Regions from separate parts of the Homo sapiens genome. Here regions 1, 2, 3, 4 and 6 are each reported to be linked to region 5. The links are microRNA targets in miRTarBase. Many come from high-throughput screens and were not tested one by one. Region 5 holds a microRNA gene; each other region holds the end of a gene's coding sequence.
The links. Region 5 holds the annotated microRNA hsa-miR-130b-3p (CAGUGCAAUGAUGAAAGGGCAU, at 1,812-1,833, opposite strand). A microRNA usually pairs through its seed, bases 2 to 8, with sites in the 3' UTR of a target mRNA and lowers its output. Matches are read on the target gene's strand: a 7mer-m8 pairs with bases 2 to 8, a 7mer-A1 pairs with bases 2 to 7 and ends in A, and an 8mer does both.

Region 1 (4,087 bases), not on the chromosome of region 5:
GGGAGAGATGAGCATAAAATTATTTGAAGAATTTGGGCCAACATTAAATATTAAGAATAACTGAATGTGGACTATAATTTTTTAAAACATTTTATTTTCATGTGCTATTGTAATTTATATCCAGACACAATAATCAAATACAAAAGAGAATGCAAGACTCTCAATTTCTAGTTTATAGTTTTTTAAAAAATCTCTTTATTAACTTGTTACAGTAGAATACATTTTTTAAAATATAGTACAAAAAATTCTCGGTGATCACCAAAAATGTAATCAATAAGGTTACATTCCTTTGTTTCTCTGAATCTTCTTTTTCCTATAATGAAAAGTGTATTTTTTAAACCTTAAGAAATTCTTTTTGCACTACCTTTTCCTATCCATTGCATCATAGTTTATGTCCCACCAGTTAGGATCTTGGAGAACTGCTCACATTAATCTTGTTTCCTGGGTTTTATTTCAAACTGTCCTGAACTTTATAGTAATTTTTGCTAAAGGAAGTTCCTAGTAAGCAGTTATTTGCCTTTGGTAAACTTAATTTTAGATGAAAACTATGCACAAAAAAACAATTGTCTTATGATTAGACCTTCAAGTTAGGAGGTGAATAGTCTATGCAGCATAAGACAAACCATAACTCTTACCTTTAAATTTTCTCATTTGACAAGAACTATCAAATTCCTTTTTAAAAGAGTACACATATACGTTTTTAATTTGGAAATTTCATATTCGGTAAAAATTCAAATTTTAATTACTGTGGAATTTTGACAACTCCAGCAATGGCAAAGCTGAATTTATTTCACTATTATCTATCAAAAAGCAAGTAACATTATAAGATTCCAAATGTTTAACCTGGTAAAAGTGAGAATATATTTCAATCAAGAGCATACCATCTAAAAAAAACACTATTGCTATCTAGTCATATGCATTTCTTATTACATTTTTGCAGCCCCTAAGTGTTCAGAACAAATGTAGCATTCACATAATACTATAGTCAATGAAAAGAGTATATTCTTTTATTGGTTTTTGTTCATACATGTTAAGTTTCAACTTTCAATAATAAAATTCAATAAATTTGATTCCTTAATCATAAAAACTGGCTTTACACATTATTTACATATTGTCAAAGTCCATACAAAACATCACAAGGATTTGATTGACTCTATGCATGGTACCATCACACAGGAGGAGGGAGCTAATCCAGTAACATACATTCAAAGATTAAATTGCAGATATGCACAGTGTATTTGGCACTGTTCATTAATATTATAACACCTTCCTCTCAAAGACAGGCATTCTTAAGCGTTAGTCACGATATACCAGAATTTGCTATTCACATTAAAACCACCTTTTAAACTTTATAACAGTAACCGATTATTATAGTTTTAAGAAACAAAACACAATGAGAACTGGGAATGGAATTCAAATCCTCCAACTTCTTGCTATGCTCCAAGCTGCCATCCATAAAACAGGTTTAATTCGGTAATTTTTCCATTGTGGGGAGTGTCAACAAGAAACAATTTAAAGACAGTATTTTCCAATACAAATAAAGACACATACTTTTGTTTAAAATTACCAGTTCTTCTTGGGAGTGCAAAGGGAGCCTTGATGATGTACAACTTGTGATGCTTTTGGCAGGAATTACAGAACAACCAATGCCATTCAAGTTGTGGAGATTGTACTAGCAGGTGAACTCATAAAGAGAAGGTTCTGGAATGACTACATCTGAAATCAGAATCCTAGTAGTTTGTAGTTTGCCTCTTCCTAGAACTTCAAGAGACTCAAATCATAGGCTACAGATGTACTTTCAAGTATATACTTATGAATGGAAGGAGAAAATAAAAGCACGAAAATGCAAATATTAAACCTTTACTGGCTTGGGCTATATTCCAGTAGGTAATTTATTTGACTAACTTAACTTTAACAACGATTAAATCCCTTCATTTTAATCAGGTCCATTAAATTTCATTCATTAAAGCTATACATACTCCAGAATGTTTATAAGACATTTATACCTATCATGTTTACAAAAGGCATAAATTCAGTCTTCAGCTGCACTACAAATGCCTCAATATAATATAATCACAGTATAAGGAATCAGAAATTCTCTGGTTAGATATGCTGTAGCTTCACACAAAACTCTCAGTAATAAATTAAAACAAAAAAAAAAAGTCGTACAACGTATAATGGATTATGCAGTGCAAAGTAATGTCACTGGACCAAAATTTAGTTTAATCATTTTTATTTCAAGTGTATTTAAAAAATCATAAATGGGGTTTCATAATCCAAAGTTGAAACATTTATTCTTCATAGCTTCAGAATTTAACAACCAATTGTAGACCATGCTTTCCAAATCCAGTCTTCTTTGCTATTTTTCAAAACTTCTGAGATCTAGTATTAAACTGCTCCATTCTAAATGTATAGTTTTAGATAAGTATTGTACACTTGTTGATAAGGGTTTTCTGAAAGCAGTCTATCAAATATAAAGAATGGTTTCTATCTAAGAATCAGCAGTGAGGGAAGAAATATTAAACACCTATCAAGAAATCAATTATTCATTTTAAAAATAACAGAACCAGTGCTGCTCTCTGTCATAAAAGAGAACATGTAAAATTTATTTTTATAGACTTTGGTAATATTTTATTCCCCCACAGAGGCCTTCAATCCTACTTAAAGATATTTTACACACAGTAACCATCAGGATTTACTGAGTAAAAATCTCAGGTATTAACCATGCCCCTAAAATGTGCTATTCCAAAGAGGAACAGGTTACTTTTGAGGAAAAAAGCTGCCTTGGTAACTTCCCTCAAATGTTTATTTTAAATAAAAATGGTTGATGGAAATATTTTTTAAAAGAACTTTGGGTATAATATGGCATACTGCCCATCAAACAAAAAAGGAAATAAAACTTTCTTTCCATTTATAATAAGTTTTCCACCTTTACTATCAAGATTACAACTTATTGACCTTTTATGCTTGCTTGGTTTTTTTGACTGCCTAATCCAATGTTTAAATTTTTAAGTCTGCATTTCAATGTAGTAGGAGTTATTTTTCAAATAATCTTCAGAACCCAGAATACAGAGCAACTCTCAGAATACCAGAGCAACACTCTCAAGTCATACTTTTGAACCCAGAATACCAGAATACCAGACTTCAGAACCCAGAATACCAGAGCAACACTCTCAAGTCATACTTTTGACTACAATTAAGAGATGAAAATGGACGGATATCTGAAGATAGGTATTCCCTCTGCTCTGAAGGTGAGCAAGATTTTAACATGTGAGCAACACAGAACTCCACTCCTCTGGAGCTCCTTTCAACTCAGAATGCTTCAGTTCAGTAAGTCAATATATTATTCTTAAAAATTAAAGTTTGGTCACTAAGAAGGACTGAACAAAAATTATTCCCCTCCCGCCAAACACAACCAGAACAGTTCTAATCAGGCCCTCTTCTCCCCACAAAAATAGGGAAGTAGCTGGGCTGAAGACTTTAAGTGTGACATTTCAGTTCCTAAAACATCACTGCTATTTGCTCAAAGTTGTAGGTCTATGTATTTCCTTCTCCAATACGTCCCCATTTATAAGTTTATTTCCATACATACAAACGTGCACATGTGTGCACGTGCACACGCACACACACACACTCACTCTCAAGTAAGACACTTTTTTGTGTTTGTTGATAAATTATGAGGATTATGAACTAGGTGTGTACAGGGTTTCATAGGTGCTTTGTAAACATCAGAGTCACTTGGTTCCTTTCCTCCACAAGCCTCAAATCAAATTATGCAACCAATGACCACTACTTTCCCAGACGCTGTTCACAGGCTGCATATTGACGAAGGGCAGAGAAAAAGTCCTCATAACTGATGTTTAGGTGGGAAGGCAAAGAGCTGAAAAGAAAACACGGGGGGAGAAAAGCAATTAGATATACACTGTAATGTAGGGGGGAACCAGAAGATAAGGACCAAAAAGAAGTTAAGAATAGAATACACCAAATTATCCTCCACCAGACAGCACCATGACAGGCACGGAAAATGTCTTAATCATAATATGTAGACTGAAAGGGTGGGGCCCTGACAGAACTGACTGGGAAATAG
Region 2 (4,087 bases), not on the chromosome of region 5:
TTGAGTGAATCGGTATAGAGAATTACATAAAGCACTAGTTAGGCTTAAGTTTTAATTGTATCTACAACCAGTCCCCATCTACCGTTCCCCCAACACAATTACCCCAGAAATCAAACTCCCTAAGACAGCAACCAATATTTTGGCATTCAATACTCAGTAAACATTTGAAAAGAATGAACATATGGTTATATGATACTTTGGGGGTAACCTAACTGGAAAGAAAAATTATAGATAAGCAGGTGAAACTGATATTAATATGAGTATTCAAATATTCTATTTATTTGATCATTTTCTTTCAGCTAAAAAATTGCCAAAGAATGAACCACAAAATCCAGGAGCAAATTCTGCCAGAGGAAGAGGAGTAGACCTTACCGAACCCACACAACCAACCAGGAATCAGTGTTGTAGTAACTAAACCTCTAGTTTGAACTAGCTGGAATAGTCTTCTGCTTCCTAAATGTTAATAACAATGGAATTGGAGCATTTAACCAGCCCAGTATGACTTCCAAAAGAAGAGACTTATGATAGAGTCAAGTTTCTAATACAGAATTATTTTAAGTGTTTTGAACTTAATTTTTAATAACATGCATGGGTCCCTCTCACTAATGTTTCAACAATAGGGAAAAATGAGAACTATGTGGACACTTGTTTCATTGGAAGGTTAGGGGGAATAATTTCTCATCACTAGGAATATAGACAAATGACTGTCTGGGCCCACACAGTTAACCAGCCCATTTCTCCACACTGGTACAGTAGTCACCTGTGAAAAAAAAATTGGAACTTACTAATTTGGGCTTTTCAAAAACATTCTTTGTTTAGAAGGAGATTCTAAAGTTATTTATGATGCTTAGCCATAGTATTCAGGCAAATGTTCATTTCTCCTGGTACCTGTATTTAAAATGTACATTCCACATTTTAATAAATTAACCACAAGAAAATAATCCCACATATACAAGGTCAGGGGTGGGGAAGAGTATTAATGGTATCTTAATTATACCCAGTCTGGTTTTTTTTTTTTAAATGGGGTAAAAATCAAATGCAACCCCATCTTGTTTTAGGAATTTTGAGAACTAATAAATGCACCTTAATGGTCAGTGTTCCTTTCAAACATGTGAGTTCTTTAACAAAAATGAAATAAACCAGGTGTCTGTGATTTCTAATTAATCACCGCTGGCCATTACACAGGTTTTGTTGTTTGGGGTGGGGAGGGGGCTTTTGTTCCCTTTTGACATAATATAGTCAATGCACTAACAATTATGTATATTCAAACTTGATTATTTTAAATTCGATCTTCAGCTGTACTGTAAATAGGGTACTGCATTGTAGTCTCCATATCTGTATTACTTTTCTGTAATATTTAAGAGTTGCTTAAAAGCATACAAAATGTACTGTTACTAAAACAGCTAATTATTTCTCTCTCCCCCTTTGACAGGAAGGGGCTTCAGTTGTTCCTCCATGGCTAGAACCATAATAAACAATGTACCCGTAATTTGTAACATAAAGTATTGCAATATGTTAGTAACAATCTTGCAGCCTTCCTTTCCAAAGTTCATTTTATTTTGATCAGTTCAGTATATTGCACTAATTATTTTAGGTATTTTCATTATATGAAAGCTACCATGTGTCAGAGATGATTTAATCTATTTAAGTGTTGGACTGCTAGGAGAACTTGTACATTTATGATAATGCAGAATTAGGAAAACGGTTCACCAGTGTTTAGTTTTATATTGAGGTGCTCAGGTTGGAATAAAGTGGTATAAAAAGCAAGTATCGGCTTTTCTCTTTTCCTTTTTTTTGGCATAAAACAGTGAATATATATAAATGATACTATATGACCTAGTATCCGCTTTTATATTTTCTTTACTATGTTCATAAAATTATTTGCATGGTATTGATGAATCATCCTAATAGCTGGATCATTGAAGAATCACTTTATATTTTGGTGCTCTGGATAATTGGAACTTTATTTTTTTATGTCAGAAGCTGATATTCACTTCCATTGAGAAATATTACCATAACTGTAATGTTGTCTCTGGAGCCAGCCAGTAAAGCAGCATTTACAAGTTCATGGCTAACATACTCAGCTGCGCCTTCATAGAAACTCTTAGTGTCTGATTCTTTTTCATTTGTTGCCACATCATTTACACTAGTTGGTCTGTCAGTTACTTTTTCACTGCAAGGTTTACGATGAGTCGTTTCTGCTGGAAATGTTTCTACATTCTCAGGGTTATAAATACAGTATTTAGAATAGTTTGAATCGGATAAATTTTCTTTGGAATTTGTAGTTGACACACGTACTTCAGATACAGATTTATACTGAAACAATACGTGGATATTACTCTGTGATTTAGTAAGGTTTGGTTCACTGGTTGAAAAAAGCAGAGGCCCTTTGGATGGTGATTTGTTAGGTATGATAGGACAGTATGTTTCTTTATACATGTGAAATGTTGTCATTGCCAGGGCAGTAACTTCCTCTTTATCCAAAACTTCCCAAAGTCCATTAGTAGCTACAATAAGGAATTGACATAGGTCATCTATAGGGACAGAAATAGTTTGAGGTGCTGGGATAATGGATTTTTTCAGCTTGAGATTTCCATGAAATCCAAGTCCTCGTGTAGTTTTTACTTGCCCCTCTACAAGCCCGTATGGTTCATTTGAACTAATGACTGCTCCATTCTGAAGTATTCTTCTTCTTTCATTTGTGTTTCGTGTAGTATGTTCTTTGGTTAGGCAAAAACCTTTCCCATTTCTGCATAAGACTGCTTGCACATTACCTAAAAGATTATTTTTTAAAAGAAGAAATTTTTATCCTAGAGATAACCAATTGTATCAAAATCTACTGCTAACTTTAGTAAATTCTGTGTTTCAATGCTAAACAGAAAGCAGGCTATGTAAAAGTACGTTTAAATATGTGTAATATATCACTACTGAATGATTTACAGTAAATACAGATTTCAAACAGGTCAATTTATCCCTCATTGTTAAGCAGCTTTTAGTGTTTAAAACTATTACATTTAGTATTAACATTACAGATAATGCAAAGTAACTTCTAAATTTTGAAATGAAATGACTTAATATTACTCACATTGCAGAGTCATGAGTTGAACTTTTTTATAGCCAACATATATTCCATCTAGGAGATTTTTAAATGTTTTTAAGATAAATGCTTTTTCAATTTAAAACACAAACTTTGATTTTTTAAAAAGAATGACAGTTGTGTAACCAGTACAAGTTAAAACTTGAATATACTTAGGTCATGGGTGATGAAAAAATTAGAATGTCACTATTAATGTTAGTCTTAACTAGGTTGCTATAATGTGTAGATTCTAAAATTTAAGTCAATCCGCCAGGTGTGGTGGCTCAAGCCTTTAATCCCAGCACTTTGGGAGGCCGAGGTGGGCGGATCACCTGAGGTCAGGCGTTCGAGACCAGCCTGACCAACATGGAGAAACCCCATCTCTACTAAAAATACAAAAAATTAGCCGGACGTGGTGGCCATGTTCCTGTAATCTCAGCTACTTGGGAGGCTGAGGCAGGAGAATTGCTTGAACCCGGGAGGTGGAGGTTGTGGTGAGCTGAGATGATGCCATTGCACTCCAGCCTGGGCAACAAGAGCAAAAATCTGCCTCAAAAAAAAAAAAAAAAATCATTCCTGTGGAGAAATATGTTGTTAATGTATTACATGAATAATAGGCAGCCAACATTAAACCCTTTGGTTGGAAACTGAAATCTTAAAAGTTGATTGTAGTTTGTCCGTGGTTCAAATGAATCTGTGATGGTGTGCTTCATTGAAATCTTACAGTTTAAACATGATCTGAACAGATTGCAGGGTGGTTATATATTACTGTAACTTTTTTTGGTGTATTTTTTAAGAACCACTGAATTTTTTTAGTTTGTTAGGAAAAATTGATTTTCCCCAAGTTTTTAGGAATATAATTACGTATTTTTTAAATTACATATAATTACATATTGTTTTTCTTGATATTAAATCATTTATGATTTATAGAAAGTTATTAAACTTCTGAGATGGGGTTAATGATATTTGAATATTATAACATCTTTGAGATTTAAAATTCCTGGAATAGGA
Region 3 (4,087 bases), not on the chromosome of region 5:
TTTTTAAGTGGTTGGGGAGGGACTTCCCCCACCCAGTGGCAGGGCTTGTGGTTGCTTACAGACTCAGGGAGGTAACCCAAATCCCTCACAGATAGGTGCACTAATCTACAAACAGCAGAAGGCCAACAAGAGTAACAATTTTGTGGTTGTTCATTTGCCATTTATTGTTCTGCAAAGACACCTCATGAGCACCAGGTGGCGATGTCCTTTCACGGAGCAACACCAAAGACTTCAAAAACATTCCAGTTACAAACAGAACAATTCACTTAGGACATTCACCTGCCTCTCCCAGAACCCCCAATCTAATGCCGGGGACCACAGAGAAGGAAAGGGGTCAGGGGTCCTTTCTTGTACCAGTGAGCCTTCCCCCAGTTTTCTCATGCACACAACAGTGCAATACCAAGACGAGTACTTTTGACCAAGTATAAAACCACAGAGAAGACCAAAATGTACAAAAATGGGAAGAGAATGAAAACACAAAGGCACACGCAGCCACAAATACACAATTAACCTTTTAGGGGATGAGCATCTGACGAGGTTTGTCTCCAATCCAATTTGTCATCCCTGGAGACTCTGGAAGGGAGAAACTAGGCTGCTGGTGCTAAGACCATGAAAGGGAAGGCATGGAATCCCCTACTTGGGCCAGGAGAGCAGAGCAGAGCTTCTAGTGGGAAAACACTCTGTGTCAAGGTAGTAGATGCACAGGGCTCAGCTGGCAGGGTTCTCACTGAAATCTAGACTGCACCTTTCCAGGTTGGCACAAGACAAAGGGCAGAGGAATGCTCCCCGCCTTGCCGGGCACAGTGTTAGAAAGGAAATTCAAGATCCCTACTGCCCAGAAAGCCACACAAGAACAGCACGAGGATGAGGTAGCCCCTACTGGGCATCTGCAGAGAGGACAAGAAAGGGGGCACAGACACAATCAAAAGCCCAGGGGAAAAGGCTTGAAGGTATGAAGTCGACCTCTCCAAGTGGTATTGCCACAGGCACAGCGGCTCCCTTTCCATCTTGAGTCTTCTTCCTTCTGCTCCTGGCCACCCCCTTCCCCACCTATACCTTCTTCTCCCTGATGTGGGGAAACTGATCTCTCCCCAGTGCCTAATTCCATTTTGAAAGTCTGTCTTCTTTTCTTCCCCACCTCCTACTGCCTCATTGTGTCTTTCTTCCCATGGACCCTCAGCCTATTTCTGCATCCTTGCGGCCAAGAAGCTCAGCAGATACTTGACCAGTGTGCGAAGGTAGAGACGGCATGAGGCTCTCCAAGTAATCTCTGTACATGGTAACCTGACAAAGGGCATGGGTGTGATATTAAACACCGCAGGGATGTCTCTTCCATTTAGTTCAGGTGTTTCCTTCCTAACTATGGCAGGAAATTGCCCTGTGGTGCAGTAACCTTGGGACCAGTCTCCTGGTCTGCTGGTGAGATACAATGGCTGCCTGCCGACAGGAGACACAGGGACAAGGATGGCAGAGCAATTCCTCCCATCAGAGCTCCCTCTGGTGGAGCTGATCAACATCCCTGTAACCATTTGGAAAGAGAGCAAAGGCTCAGCACCAGCACATCCACAGAACTGGGTGACAGGCAGGTGAATCGACTGACAGGCAGGTGAATCGACTATCCACCCCAATGTCAAAATGGCTGGAGGCCTAACAGCAAGCAGCTATGGGGCTGGCTTTATGAAAGATTGGCCTCCAGTTCCCATCTAAGTACCATTTTTGAAGGTTCTCTTGTTTCCATTTTTCTAGCATCAAAAACCTTCCAAATATTATGAAATATATATGCATATATATATATATATATATACGTCAAACCCCCAAAACATGAGGTATATAAATTCAAATTAGTATCCAGAGGAACTTCCCCCAAACACATAGTTCAAAGAACCCACTTTCAAAGGGGGAATTGGGTTTCCCTTCTTGATCCCCCCTGTTCTCCTCCCTGGCCCCCAATTCGTTCCTTACTGGGAGCCAAAGGCAATAAGAATGTTGGGGAGGAGATAGGGTCTTGGGACACAACAAGATGCAGATTGGACCAGACCATATTGTGATCCCAACTCCATTAGGAATGAGCTAAAGAGATTCTCTCCCTGCTGTAAGTCAATCTATAATAGATGAGGGAGATGAGGGACCCAGCAGCTCTGGGCTCTGATTAGCAAATTTGCATGGAAACAGATTGAAGCCTTCATAGAAACAAGACTGGATGGAGATGAGCTCTGATCCAATCTTGAAAAGAAATATAAAAGGATGAGTTCAGCCCTCACCTCATTGCATCTCCCCAGGCACAGTTCTGTCTTCATTGGGGTTTCAGTTCACTACGGGATAGGTTGGCAACAGGTGAGGAACGTCAAAGGACCACAGCCTGGCTGTTGGAGCCCCATCAGAACTGGGGTTTGGCATCTTGCAAAACAGAGTGCAGGGACATGACGGGCCTTCCCTTCAAGCTGGCCCAGCAATGCACACACGCCCACACACACACGCGCATGCACAGACACAGAGGGCACAGAGCCCAGCATGGGCTCCACTCACAGTGACTCGATGAAACTCATGGAATCTTTGAGCTGGTCTAGAATGAGTTGGGAAGAAGGCTGTGGGCTCCTCTCCCTGAGGACAGTTCAGATGCTCAGTGGGATGCAGGCTCTGGTTTGATCAGAGAGGGTCTAGAAACAGCATCATGGGATGCCACTCCAAAGAGGAACCCCAGAGTCCATCCATCCACATGAGAGAACCAGATGCCTCTTTGGACAGGTGAGAGCTGTGAGGAGGAGAGGAGGGCCCAGAGAAGCCAAGGACTGTGATGACAGCAGAATGTGCTCCCAGAGGCTTTTCCTTCTCCGACCCTCTTGGGAAGAAGTGCTTCCTTGCTCTACACCAAGGCATCAGTTTCTGATGTCACAGCAGTTTAGTGATTCACCCCTTTGCCCACCCCCCAACCTTGCACAGTGAGAGCTCCCTGCCTCCAGCAGAGGGAGAATAGCAGAAACTCCAGTCTCAAAGCAGAGTGGAAGTAGCAAGAAGCCGGCTGAGGCAAGAAACCCCGGCTTCCCAAAGCCAGGATATGGAGTGCCTAAGCACTGCCCATACCCTAGGTGTGCTGACCATGCCCCTACTTGGGAGGTGGGGTAGGGAGGGGATTCCTGCCTACCCAGCACCAAAAACTCCATGGGAACAGACCCAGGATGGCCCTCATCCCATCTCCCTTTGTGTTGGATGAGATTTATGAATGATGTCGCTATATTCAGTCTGGCTCCCACTGTGGTTGGGAGGGATGAGGGATGGACACAGGGCAGGAGGGGAGGATAGAAAGTTGGGAGGGCAGGACACCAACTTCTTCTACATTGACTCACTCTCCTCACTTCCTGTCCTGCAGTCTCCATGGCCCCTCCCACCTCAAAGCTTTTCTGGCCTCAGTCCTTCTCCTGGGCAGTGCTGTCCTCAGAGATGCCCTGGGCAGCCAGTTCAGCCAGCACATTATCCAGGTAATTGGCATCTGGGTAGCCATGGCCAGTGAGATTAGAGCCAAACTCTGTCTTGTGGTGGACCTCATTCCAGATGACGGTGTCTGACTCGCCTGTGGTGCTGGAGGTGCCAATGGCAAAAATGAGGCGGCGATCCCAGGCCACGAGCAGCAGCTTCAGAACCTAGAGGGATAAAAGTGGGACATGAAAGGCAGACATTAATTGGCAGTCAAAGACTATCCCTTGGACGGTAGAGAATCCTCCCAAGGGCCCCATCCCTTCCTGCATCATGATACCCTAAGCAGCCCAGGGGAAAGAAAGAGATTTGGACTTGGAGTTTGGGAGCTACAGGCTGAGTCCTGGCTCTGTCACTGAATAACTGTGTGACCTTGGAGAAGTTATAGCACCTCTCTGAACATTAATTTTTTTATGAAATGGCAATGGTACAATCTGCCTCTAAACGTTGTGAACATCTTACTGGACACTCCATGAAAAGTATTTTCACACCAGTGCCTACAACGCACTAATTGATAAATGTTATCTGCCAACATAACGGCTGCATTTTGAAAGACAGGATCTAGGAGTTGAAGGCGCTTATGATCTGAGAACTTCTGAAGTTCTGCCCTTCATTA
Region 4 (4,080 bases), not on the chromosome of region 5:
TCTGTCTCTTCTCAATATTGAAAAATTAACCTTTGACCTTATGTCTCCTTTTAACTACCACTCAATTTCCTATTCTCCTTAATTGTAAAACTTAATAAAACAAAAAAATTCAGCAGCACATATTTCACTTTCTCGCTTCCATTCACTCTTCAACCTGCTCCAATTGGCCTCCCATCCCCATTTCTCCAAGGAATGATGTTGACACAGTCATTAAGACCTTGCTGTCAAAGCCGGTGAATATGTAACTATTCTCATATTAATCTCTTGGTGGGACTTCAACACAATTGACTGCTCCATTCTTCTTGAATTACTCTCTTCTCTTGGTTTTTATACTACTAATCACCTAGTTTTGCTCCTACATTTTGGGCTGTCATTTCTCTGGCTGTTTTGTTGGTTCTTCATCCTCCACCTCTATCTAAATATAGAAGTACCTCAGAAATCCATTTTTGACCTTTTTTCCTTCTCTACACTCTTCCTGGATGACCTCACTTGTTCCCATGGTTTTAATTACCACACAAATGCCAGAAAGGTTCAATGTTATAAGTCTAGTCCTGACAGCTCCCTTGATTTTCACATTTATATATGCAGTTACTCTTGATATCTTCACATAGATGTTTTAATAGACATCTCAGTTTTATTTTTCCCAAACTTGTTTCTCTTGAACTCTTCCCATTCTGAGCAAATATGGCCGCCATTGATCCAATTGCTCAAGCCAAAAACCTGAGTCACCCTTATTTTTTTTCTTTTCCTTACTCCACATTTAATCCATCAGCAAATCACATTAGTTCTATCTTCAAGCTATATCTGTAATTTTTCAACTTAAACTCTGTATCTACTTCCACCTCCAAATTGGCATCATCTCTCATCTGGACATTACAATAGACCCCTAAATGGCGTTCTTGAATAAACTGAAACCTCTACCATGGTTTGTGTGGCCCCATATGAAGCAGCTTCTTGTCTACTCCAACTTTCTCCTTCCTTCTCACTCTGCTCCAGCCACACTGACCTCCAGGATGCTCCTGTCACACTCTGAGTCCTTTCTGTCTGACGGCCTTTGCATTTGTTCCTCTTGCAACAAGATTTTGTCCCATATTTTTGCATGATTGACTCTTTTTCATCCATTCCCACCAATGTTATTTCTTCAGAGATGTGTTCCTTACTTTCACCTCTGCCACACTTGGTCAAAATACCTTATTTCCTTTGAGGCATTTACCACTATCTGAAACCATCTTTTGTTTATTTGATGGCATGTTGTGTCCCTCACAGACACAGAACATAAGCTTCCTGAGGACAGAAACCTTTTCTGTCTCCTTCACTTTTTAAGACCCATCCTGGAAAGTGCCCAGTTAGCATCGGAGTACCTGGTAAATATTTGCTGGATTAATTAATTCATTCAACAGCAATTTTTAGACTTCCCACTATGTGCCAGGTGCTGTACTAAGTTATTGTTAAATTTTAATTTATTTGTAGAAAATTAAAATATTTTAAAAATATTTTGTGGGTACCCAGTAGGTGTCTATATAGGGCTCATGAGCTATTTTGGTACAGGCATGCAATGTGTATGCAATAGTCACATCATGGAAGATGGGGTATCCATCCCCTCAAGCATCCTTTGTGTTGAAACGATCCAATTATATTATTTTAATTATTTTAATATATGCAATTAAATTATTATTGATTATAGGTTCCCTGTTGTGCTATCAAATTCTAAGTCTTATTCTTTCATTTGTTCTAGGTTCTTGACATACAGCTGTGAACAAAACAGAACAAAGATCCCTGCCCTCATGGAGCTAATATCTCAGTGGGAAAGATGGGTAATAACCAAGGCATTGTAAGTAAAAGGGTGGTATATTTAAAGGTGTTAAGTGCTATGGAAGAAGAGTTTCTGGATGAGAACTTGGGGTATTATCCAGCCTCTTTATCCTCCCTTTGTGTGGCAAAGTAGAAAAGGCATTTGCTTTTGCAAACACTTGAAATCGTGGCTTCTGGAGATGAGCTCTGAGATCCTGAACATTTTTCCTCTTTGAGGCTTAGTTCCCTCAAAGATATGTGTAAAATACTAATCTCAAAATTTTGGTGTAAGCACTAGATGAACATAGATCAAATACCTTCTCATCCCTTCCCAGCCACCCACCCTCATCCTATCATTCTGGGGAAGGAAGCTATATGGCACTACCATATTCTCCCTCTCCTGAACACCTAGCATGCTTAGATCAACCCAATGTTCCTGAAAACACTCAAGATGTACTTACTGCATAAACATATGGACAAAATAGTGTATGGGCAATTTAAAAGTAAACAAATCTACTTTTATTCAGAAATGATGCTTTTTAAGTAAGGGTAGGAAATCTTCATTTTCTTTAATAACTAACTCTTTTTCCCTCTTCCTAATTTAATTCAATTTTTACAGACCCCCTATTGATAAAGATGTAAGATCTGCTATTCATTGTCTTTCTTATACATAGAAGTAAAATCACAGAAATAATTATTATTTTATGGGAGGATAAAACATTTATTTAAATGGAAACACTAATCTTTATTTTCATCATGCTGAAGTGTGTGGTTACAATTTCCAATAAAACACTATATATAATAAGCAAAATAAGTTAGTACATTGTAAACTTATGCACAGTTTCATCAATTAACAGTTTAAGAACAAACAAGCCATTTAAGACTTTGGAGCTACATTTAGTAAAAAATTGCAAACACTCAAATCTTATCAACCCCAAGTAAGACAGTAAAGAGCTATTCAAGACTTCTTCAAACCAATTACACAAATACATGTTTATTTTTGGTTACAGTCCCCTGCTATGCACAAGACCATTGGAATGCTGGAACAATTACACATTTTAAAACGGCAAAAAGCAAAGCAAGGAGATAACATGCCAGCCTTAGAGAAGCTGTCTTGAAAGTGCAAACTGCGTTTTCTCTTCCTGAACCACTAGGATAAGAACGGGTACCTCAGACGACACGGCAGGGTCATGAGCATGCTTTCTATACCCCACTGGTGGGACATTTACTGGAACCAGGTCTCCATGCCTTTGAAGATACCTCCGGTTTTAAACAGTGAACAGGCTTCAACTAAATATAGTGCAAATCAAATACCAAGGAGCAAAACGACAGAATAGAGACTGTCACAGATGATTGACTTCCTGTTTCTCTACCTGGCACAACCCACATGGGACACATTGGCACACGGTAACAACAACTTCTATTTAGGTTTTGATACGGAAGGCGGTGCGGCGGAGCGAATGCAGGGCAACCACGCAACAGCCCCTGAGCAAGGCCCCGATGTTATACACAGGATCCGTTCCCCCTCTCTGAGTACTGAATGCCCACAGAACCGTGGGGACCACGGGGGCAGCCACAGCCAGGAGATCCACCAGGAAGCTGCTGCTCCAGTACTGCCTCACGACGCCCCCGCGAGCCAGTGGGATGACACCATCCAACCTCTCTTCCACGCAGGCTGCAAAATCCAGCTCTCTCATGAGGCGGTTTGCATGAACTTCTGCATCCACATTGGCGTAGGGGGTCTCCACGGGAGACAAAAGGATGGCTGAGTTTGGATTTCTTGGAGTTAAATCAACCACTAAGGCAGAGAGGGACTCTGGGAAGCTCTCCATCGAGTCTGGTTCAGACTCATCAGGGGACGCCAAGCTCGAGGGACAGGGGTCCTGGAGCTTCTGCAGCACACTCTGAATGAGCTCTGAGATGGCTGGGCTGTAGGGCACCACGTCGGTCTGAACGGCTCGCTCCACCACCACACTGCCCTCCTCCTGACCCATGACTATGGGCAGCAGCTCCAGGACGTTAGCCCCAGGGGTGGAATGCACAAGCTCCAGGTCACCAGATTCTGTGGTGGTGGCTGTCACTATCTCATCGAACAAATCTGTGCTGTTGGCTATGCTATCTCCTACCAGTAGCTCCCTGTCAGCCCCTTCCCCCGTGACCTGCTCTTCCAGAGATAACCCATCTGCCATTGTGTCAAGAGGGGGGTTGAGGGTTAAGCTCTTCTCTGGGGAATCACATGGAAAGTCTAGGCACAGTTCGTCCCTCAGAGAGCCACTGTGTGCCATCTCC
Region 5 (4,087 bases):
GCCTCCCAAAGTGATGGGATTACAGGCGTGAGCCACTGCGCCCAGCCTAATTTTGTATATTTAGTAGAGATGGGGTTTCTCCATGTTGGTCAGGCTGGTCTCAAACTCCCGAACTTAGGTGATCCACCTGCCTCGGCCTCCCAAAGTGCTGGGATTACAGGCATGAGCCACTGCGCCTGGCCAGAGATTTTTTAAATGACAGTTGTCTCTGCCTCAGGGGCTCCCAGTCTAATGGACACTTCTGCCACAGGGAGAACATTTTGATTTAGGCCGGGTGCGGTGGCTCATGCCTGTAATCCCAGCACTTTGGGAGGCCCAGAAGGGCAGATCATGAGGTCAGGAGTTCGAGACTAGCCTGGCCAACATAGTGAATCCCCGTTTCTACTAAAAATACAAAAATTACTGGGTGTGGTAGCACCTGTAGTCCCAGCTATTCGGGAGGCCGAGGCAGGAGAATCGCTTAAACCCGGGAGGCGGAGTTTGCAGTGAGCCAAGATCGTGCCACTGCACTCCAGCCTGGGCGACAGAGCAAGACTCCATCTAAAAAAAAAAAAATTTGATTTAACAAGCTGTTCTGGAGGAATATTCAATGCTGTGAAGCCCAGAGAAGGCTTCCATTGGGAGGGAGCCAGTGAGCAGAGCCCTGAGTTCAGTCTCCCCGCAGCAAGAGCAGGAGACAGCTGCATGGGGGTCTCCAGCCAGTGGGTACAGAATCTGTACAGGACTGAGGGGTGGCCACCTCCAGCCATGGCCCCTGGTGCCTAGAGGAAGGGAGGATGGATCTAAGTCAGATGACCCTAGGATCAAGGAACCCCAAGGGATCAGGACTAGGAAGCCAAGGAGCATGTGTCATTGCCCCTGTTCCTCCCACGGGTGCCAGGGCTTCTCTCCCCAGGGTAGGGGTAAAGCAGTTTCCCAATGCGCCCAGCTAGGGATGAGGGGAACTCCCAAAAGCCCATCTGGAAACCTAGTCCTCCTCTAAAGAAGATTTGAATGACTGTGACTGGGCACGTAGAAACCTTTTGCACCGTGTCAGGTCTTGATGGTAGAGGTGGTCATCCAAGCATGCCTGGGGTCAGGCTCCTTGGAAGTTCAGCTCCAACCCTGTATTCCAGCTGGGACGGTTGGAATGTTAGACACCTCAGTCCCTCCTGCAGGTTCAGGGCACACCTCTCTGTAAGAGAACAAACTGGCATGGTTGGTAGACATCATTTGCAGGCTTTGTATCCCAAGTCCACCCATCCATCTCACATAGTACCACTCCAGCTGAGTCCACTCAACTGATCAGTCAACTGGTCAGTCCATAGTACCACTCCAGCTGACGTCCTGGGGTGAAGGCTGCCTCCTGAAAGGCCTGCCTTACCCCCTTACCCAACTGCCACCCAGAAGAACATTCTCTCCAGAGCCTGGCCCTGTTCAAGCTTCCAGCAAGGACTGGGCCCAAGCCAGGCCTAGAATGATCTTCCATGCAAAAGACTGGGCGTGTATTTCCCCTAAGACCCTGACCAGGCCTGGAGTTCCAGTCTTACCCCAGGGACCCAATGTGGAAAGACCTTCAAACAAGAGCTTTTCAGAAGCTGGGGAGGTCTGCTCCTGCACCTGTCCAGCCATGACAGGATGGAGAGTTTAGGGATGATTCTCCAGCTCTGCACCCACCTGATCCTCTGATGGAGGGTCCAGTCCAGCTTCACATCTGTGCCTAATCAGTGGAAACACTTACCCTCTGGGCACCTCAACCTTCTCAACTGGAAAGTGGAGTGAGGCAGCAAGCTCCCTTTCCCCCTCCCAGGGTAGCAGGCTGGACCTGACCGATGCCCTTTCATCATTGCACTGCTTCCCAGCGGCCTATAGTAGTGCAACAGGGAAAGAGTGTCGGGCAGGCCTGCCAGTGCCTCCCCCAGGGTGGTCTGCAGGGATCTGAGACCTGGAATGCAGGCTGGCTGGGGCGGGGCCTCTGCCCGGGGGGAAAGGGTGCCCTCTGACCCCAGAGGCCCAGGCCTGTCTAGAATCTCAAGTTTCCATGGAGAAGGGAGCGAATTGGGTAGGGGGGAGGGGAGGGCCTGCAAGCCCAAGGGGCCCTGCCTGGGGAGTGGGAGGTGAGGGTTATAGGGAGGGAGATCCCCAAGGCTGGTCCCAGATGCTTTGACAATATCATTGCACTGCTTCTCAGAGCACAGTAGTGCAACCTCGTCAGAGCACCTGCGGCCAGCAGGGGGGACCCCACCACCCCCAATACACGCAGGGCGGGAAGCTCAACCATGGATGGGTGGGTGGGGCAGAGCCCCCGTCCAGTCCATCCGGGCAGGGAAGGAGACCGCAGCGGGGTGCGTCCCTGGGGTCTTCAGAACCCAGGACACCCAGGCCTTTCCCAGAACGCTCCGGATTGAGGTGGAGGAGAAACCCCAGACTAGGGGGTTGTTCCAATCCCGGAGCAGGAGCTGACGGGCCACGCAGGGGAGGGGGCGCACACACAAAGACGAACCCGCACTCAGCCGCAGTCCAAAGCCGGCTAGCGCCCGGAGCGGGGTGGGTACAGCCCGACGACCCTGCGCCCTGACTCGGCCCGCGGCTCCAGGAGAAAAAGGGCGGCCCCACCCCGGGACGACGCGCCCCTTCTAGCTGACGACTCCATCCCTGGCCCCTTGCCCTGCACTAGATACACTCTGGATTCTTTTCTAACATATTCTTCTGCCTGGAGGCCCAGAGTGGAGCAGAGGATGGGGGCTCCCCGCCCTTCTAGAGTTCCCTGCTCCAAAGAGGGCCCCCGGGATCCCGGCCGCGCCCCTCCGCCTGACCCGCCGAGTAGGGCCGCCCAGCCCAGCCCAGGATCCCCTCCTCAGACACAGCTGACTCACGCAGACATCCCTTCCGCCCAGGGCCCGGTCAGGACGCGGAGGGTTAGACGGAAGAGGATCCCGGCCATCGTCTGCCCCCGGGTCCCCGTCCAGACGACCCTGCACCTCGTGGCGGCCCCTCGCCTGCCGGCTCCATCTTTAACCCGCTGACAGTCGGAGGGGCCGGGCCCCCGACTCCTTAGCATAGCGCTGCGCTCATTGGCCGGCGCTGGCGCGGGGATTCGCCTCCTGCATGCCTGTTGGCTGAGACGGGAGAGATTTCAAAATAGCCTCCGGGTTCCGATTGGCCCGGCGCCGGCCGAGTCTCGGGCTCCGTGGTTTTAACAATGAGTTCTACAAACACTTTTTCCCCATTCATAACTTATCAAAAGGAACTTTGCCCGCCTTTTCTCAGCTCCAATCTCTGCGAGTTTTCTAGCGACACCGACAAGAGCGCTTGGAAGCCCGGTGAGGGGCGCCAGGCGCGAGCCCACAGTGGGGGAGGCCGAGACCCTGTGGAAATTCCCGAACCCCCGCCAAGCCTGCTGTGAACGCGGCCGCGGGCTGCTTTGTTATGCATGCTGAGGTTGCTCTCTGCGCCTCCTGGATGGGATATTTGGACGTGGTGGGCTTACAAACTGGGGTAGCCCCCCTCCCAACTCAACCACCCCGGATCGCCCGGCAGGACGCGAGTGAGGCTTTCCTGAAAACCCCCGGGTATGGCTGGGCTATGGAGACCGGGTCCTGGGCCCCGTGGTCTTTTGGATCTGTGGGAGATATGGGGAACGGAAGTGTAAGCTTTGGTTTCTTCGTGATTGTGATCCACTTTGCGGAGAAGCATTCATTAAGCGCCTACCCTTCGCTGATGACTAGGAAGTATATTGATCACCGGGCTGTTGAACGGCTCCTAGAGGGAAGGGAGGAGCTGTGCTTAGACAACTGTGCCCCTGCAACCCCTCCTGCTTTATTATCGGTCCAATGGCTGAGAGCAAATGTTTTTGAGGCAGGCAGAGGTGGTTTTGAATCTTTATGAACCCCTGTTGCCTTCTTGCAAAATTGAGATGGCAATCAAACCTGCCCCATAGGGCTGGCTGTTGCCAGCAGCAAATGAGATGCTGTGTAAATTGTTGGCCCAGCACCTGGCATTTAGTAAGTGTTCACTGAAAGTGAGTTCTGCTGCCACTACAGTTTTTATTTTTGGCCTTGTCCTGCATTCTGCCTGGAACAATCTTATCTGCTCCCACAGCATGGGC
Region 6 (4,076 bases), not on the chromosome of region 5:
AGCCTTCACCCATTGGGCCTCTGTCCATCTTTCCAGCCTGGGGACCCAATATTTGCCCCACAAGGCCCAGGCAGGAGGGCCTCCAGCACGCGCAGCCCTGACCACACTGTGAGCAGCTCACTTGGCAAGGGTGAAGGGCCGGAGTGGCGTCCTCCTGATGTGGCTTCCTTCCAGCCTCTACCACCCCTGGGGGCCTCCTCCAAGGAGCAGGTGGTTAGATGTCCTCTTGTGCCCACACACACGGCAGGGTGGAGGAGGATGAACCGGAACCCAGTCCATGCTTCTGCCCCCACCCTGGCACCCCAAGGTTTCTTCTCAGGCAACAAGGAGCACACAAAGTGAGCCCCTGTACACAGGTGGCTGGGATATGTTCATCTTCCACAGGGAGGCCAGTGCTGGGGATGAGGACAAAGGCCTACGCCCAGTCCCAGCTCTGACACTGCCTTGCTGAGTCACCCATCAGCCCTAACGCTTCCTGGACGAGACAAGCAGATAGGGTGCCCCAGAGAGGAGCTGTGTCACTAAGGGCCAGGACACCCCATCTCTGGGTCACACTTGGCCACGGCTTCATTTTTGGCTTCAGTTTGTTTACTGAACAGAAGGGAGAGGGGCCCTGTGAGACAGAGGACACTGACTCAGGTCGGTGAGTGGCCCTCACTGTATAGAGTCCATGGCTGGGGACCAAGTGGCACTGAGACTCGCCCAAAGTCACATCACAGAGCTGGGGTGCCTTGCTGACTCCCTGGCCCCAATCTGCTTTTCCATTTGTCGAACGCACACTGGCACACTGGCTGCAGCAGCTGCGGGGGTCGGGGGGTTCCAGGGCTGGCTGTCACTTGGCCTCCTGCAGAGGTAAGCTGAGGGCTATGTTGGACCCGCCAGAAGTCAGGTGACAGCTGCTTTCCCTTTCAGGATCGGGAGGGAGTCACCTGAGGGTATATTCTCAGTGGGCTAAACATGACATGCGAGAGCCCAGCTCTCCAAGCGGCCCCTTCCTCCTTCTCACACCAAGGCACTTTCAGAAGCCGCTGGATTCCGACTGGGGCTGTGCCACTTCATCGCCGGTGCCTCTGCTGTGCCGGCTCTCCTCTTCTGAGGGTGTGGAAGCAAACCCAGGTCAAGCTGTGAGGAGTGCCTAGCACCTGGCCAGAGCCAGGTACATGCCAGCTATGATGATGATGAGCCCAACTGCAACAGGAGAACACACTTAGTGCGACATGCAGCGGTAGCCTGGCGTTGGGCACCTCCCCATGCTCCGAGAATTCTATTTGGAGAAGCCCTTCTCCATTGTCTCAGTCACTTCAGGGTGCAGGAAGCGGCTGGCCAACCGTTCGATGTCGTCCAGCGTCAGGCGACTCAGGGACCTCTCGTAATCCTGGGGAGAGAAGGGCAGGAAGATTCAGGGGCTGCCAGTGGTGGGGGGGCATACACTGCAACAGAGGTAGGGGCTGGGAGCAACTGGGCCTGAAGAGGATGCCCAGGGTTACCCTTCTCACCCTCTGTAGCTGTTCCAGGACCCTGCTGGCATCTGCCGCACTGAAGTGGCGGGCCAAGACTTTGGAGATCAGCTGCCAGACCTGCGGGGGTGGGGAGTCGGCCAGCCTCTGGGCCTCGCCTTCTTCTAGTAGCACCTTCTCCAGGGGTTTGACCACTAGGTTGAGCTTGGAGTTGGGCCCGATGCTATAATCCGAGAGTCGTTTCCCATCTGCCAAAGACAGATCGATGGGTTCCTCCTCCTCCACCGCCGTGGGGGTGGCCCGGGGCGCGAGGCCGCCTCGGGCGGCGGGAGCGGAGCGCTGCGGCATCCGGCTGTGAGGCATGCGGCCGCCTCCCTTGGGGTCATGTGGCGCTTGGCGCCCGCACCCCGACCCGACACACGGCTGCTGGCCTCGGCCCGCGCACCCCGGTCCCGCTTCCTGCGGGGCTCCCCGGGCGTCTCCTCTCCCTGGGTACCTGCCAGGGCCTTGCCCTTGAACAGCAGCCGCTGCTGGCGCACTGGGACGTTCAGCTTCTCGGAGACCAGCTGCTTCAGCGTGGACACCAGCTCGTCCTCTGGCACCTGGCCGCGCGGAGGGTGGGAGGCAAGGGTTGAGCCCGCGGCCCCCAGACGGCGAAGCCCACGCGTCCGCCCCCGAGGGCAGCTCTCCCGGCTCCCGGCCCTCGGCCCGGCCGCCCCGTGCCCGCCCTCGGCCCTGCCGGTCCCCCTGCCAGGAGCGGGCGAGAGAGCGCGCCGGACCCGGCGGCCCGGCCCGGGGACCCTACCTGCAGGCTGCACTCGCGGCCCTGCAGCGCCTTCACCGTCAGCTGCATGGCGGTCGCGACGGCGTCCACTCGGGCCGGCGCGCACCCCAACCACCCCCCGCCGCGCGCCGCCGCCCCGGGCGCGCGCTGGAACCGCCCGCCGCCGCCGGAAGCAGCGAGAGGGGCGCGCCCGCCGCCCGCGCTTCCCGGCCCCGCCCTCCTGCCCCGTCCGCGCCCCGGCCCCGCCCCCCGGCCCAATTGCGCCCCGGGAGGAGTCCCCCCGGGGTCCCGCCTAGCATGCGCGCATCGACCGCCCTGGCCGGCGGACCCCTCCCAAAGCAACGACGCGGGGGAGTTGGGAGCAGGAACCAGTCGGGCCAGGTTGGCGTCATCTGGGAGCTGGGACATGGAGAAGGGAGGGCCAGAAGGTACGCTCGCCCCCGCGGACTGCCTGGCCCACCTCACGCGCCAGGACTGCTGGCGGCGCCTGGCCCTGCATACCCACAGACGGCCCGCCCCCGCTCCCTGTCTGGTGGCTTCCTACCTCCTCCTTTCTGGTCTGGCTGCGAAACGCTCCACTGAGCTTGAGAGGGGGCAGGGGGGCTACGCCTCTGCCCTCATCCTCCCACCTCTCCCAGAGTGGGGACACCCCCGGGGAGGGCTGATAGGGAAAGCCTATGCAGGGGTCACCGTGTCACCCAAGCTGGCCCTCCACCCTGGTCCACACTTACCCAGCACACTCTTTCTACCCCCACGCCCAGGCCCCAAAGGGCAAAGAGTAGAAGGGACCCAAGCTTGCTTCTCTCTTTTATTGAAATATATTTTCTGGGCAGCGCCCACCTACCTAACTCAGCATGGCCTCTTTGGCACTGAAAGCTGGAGAATAAAAAATCAGTAAAAAAAATAAGCCTGGATTTTTCTGAGTGCATAGTGCATGAGAACTTTGGTGGAGTGTGGGGGCTGGGGCTGATGAAAGCTTGACCCAGAGGCCTCAGGGAACTGGGAACAGGCTGCTGTAGATGAAGTGGCCAATGACCAAGGCCAGCATCTCGGAGGTGCCGCTCAGCGCCACAATGAAGGGGGCCTGGGAGGCATAGTCAGCTTGAAGGCGGCGGAGGGATAGCTGCAGCATGGCCAAGGCCAGCAGGCTGTTCTGCACCCCTACCTCAATGCTGACCGTCCGCCGCTGGGCCACTGGCAGCTTCAGACACGTGGCTAGGCAGTAGCCCACCAACAGGCCAACCAGGGGCACCGTGATACCCACCAGTACGATGGGTAGCCGGATGCCTGCCAGGATGAAGACCCCCATGCGATAGGCCAGGAAGAGGCCGCCCAGGAGGAGCACAAAGCTGAAGGGCTTGACGACCTGCAGCAGCAGCTGGGAGAACTTGGGGAGCTTGGACTTGATCAGCACGCCCACGGCTATGGGGATGGCAATGAACAGCAGGGTCCCCAGGATCTTGGAGATGGGCACGTGGAGCGTCTCATGGATGCTGAGCAGGCGGCTGTAGATGGCCGAAGACAGAGGCAAGAAGCCAGTGGCAGCCACCGTAGAGAGGAAAGTCATGGAGATGGCCAGGGTGACGTCCCCTCCAAGAAGGAGGCTGAAGAGGTAGCTCCCCCCGCCGCCAGGCGACGAGCAGGTGATGATGAGGCCCAGAGCCAGGGCCTTGGGCAGCATGAAGACCTTGGCCATGAGGAAAGCGTACAAGGGCATGACCAGAAACTGGCCCAGGAGGCCCAGCAGCATGGGCTGGGGGCTCTGCATGAGCCCCTTCAGAACCTCGAGTTCCACTTTGCACCCAAACGAACACTTGTTGACAAAGATAAGAGGC

Region 1: the mRNA of NUS1 is a reported target of hsa-miR-130b-3p. Seed matches in the 3' UTR shown: 7mer-m8 at 2,189-2,195 and 7mer-m8 at 1,582-1,588.
Region 2: the mRNA of RAB5A is a reported target of hsa-miR-130b-3p. Seed matches in the 3' UTR shown: 7mer-A1 at 1,244-1,250 and 8mer at 1,577-1,584.
Region 3: miRTarBase lists DTX4 as a target of hsa-miR-130b-3p. Seed matches in the 3' UTR shown: 7mer-m8 at 391-397.
Region 4: the mRNA of SYBU is a reported target of hsa-miR-130b-3p. Seed matches in the 3' UTR shown: 8mer at 3,089-3,096 and 7mer-m8 at 2,911-2,917.
Region 6: miRTarBase lists SLC10A3 as a target of hsa-miR-130b-3p. Seed matches in the 3' UTR shown: 7mer-A1 at 3,170-3,176.

What each region holds. Positions count from the first base shown.
Region 1 is chr6:117,706,718-117,710,804 of GRCh38, reverse strand. NUS1 (NUS1 dehydrodolichyl diphosphate synthase subunit) reads right to left here. Exons shown (of 5, transcript NM_138459.5): 5 at 78-3,880. The coding sequence ends at 3,790. Among named protein-coding and RNA genes, the nearest start is that of NUS1, 33 kb to the right of the region's middle.
Region 2 is chr3:19,983,409-19,987,495 of GRCh38, forward strand. It overlaps RAB5A (RAB5A, member RAS oncogene family), which reads left to right. Exons shown (of 6, transcript NM_004162.5): 6 at 300-1,767. The coding sequence ends at 415. It overlaps PP2D1 (protein phosphatase 2C like domain containing 1), which reads right to left. Exons shown (of 3, transcript NM_001252657.2): 3 at 1,938-2,774. The coding sequence ends at 1,972. Among named protein-coding and RNA genes, the nearest start is that of PP2D1, 27 kb to the right of the region's middle.
Region 3 is chr11:59,204,227-59,208,313 of GRCh38, reverse strand. It overlaps DTX4 (deltex E3 ubiquitin ligase 4), which reads right to left. Exons shown (of 9, transcript NM_015177.2): 9 at 1-3,638. The coding sequence ends at 3,405. Among named protein-coding and RNA genes, the nearest start is that of MPEG1, 6.7 kb to the left of the region's middle.
Region 4 is chr8:109,571,691-109,575,770 of GRCh38, forward strand. It overlaps SYBU (syntabulin), which reads right to left. Exons shown (of 7, transcript NM_001099754.2): 7 at 2,288-4,080. The coding sequence ends at 3,216. Among named protein-coding and RNA genes, the nearest start is that of EBAG9, 34 kb to the left of the region's middle. RefSeq lists an enhancer at 3,131-3,360.
Region 5 is chr22:21,651,100-21,655,186 of GRCh38, reverse strand. It overlaps MIR130B (microRNA 130b), which reads right to left and starts at 1,883; the gene lies at 1,802-1,883. It overlaps MIR301B (microRNA 301b), which reads right to left and starts at 2,206; the gene lies at 2,129-2,206. It also overlaps the pseudogene LOC107985532. RefSeq lists enhancers at 2,493-2,542, 2,079-2,750, 2,751-3,421.
Region 6 is chrX:154,484,275-154,488,350 of GRCh38, forward strand. SLC10A3 (solute carrier family 10 member 3) reads right to left here. Exons shown (of 2, transcript NM_019848.5): 2 at 3,037-4,076. The coding sequence ends at 3,233. It overlaps UBL4A (ubiquitin like 4A), which reads right to left and starts at 2,341. Exons shown (of 4, transcript NM_014235.5): 1 at 2,263-2,341; 2 at 1,954-2,059; 3 at 1,497-1,705; 4 at 1-1,375. The coding sequence starts at 2,310. The coding sequence ends at 1,265. RefSeq lists enhancers at 1,030-1,788, 1,789-2,547, 2,885-2,944 and silencers at 1,725-1,874, 2,365-2,624.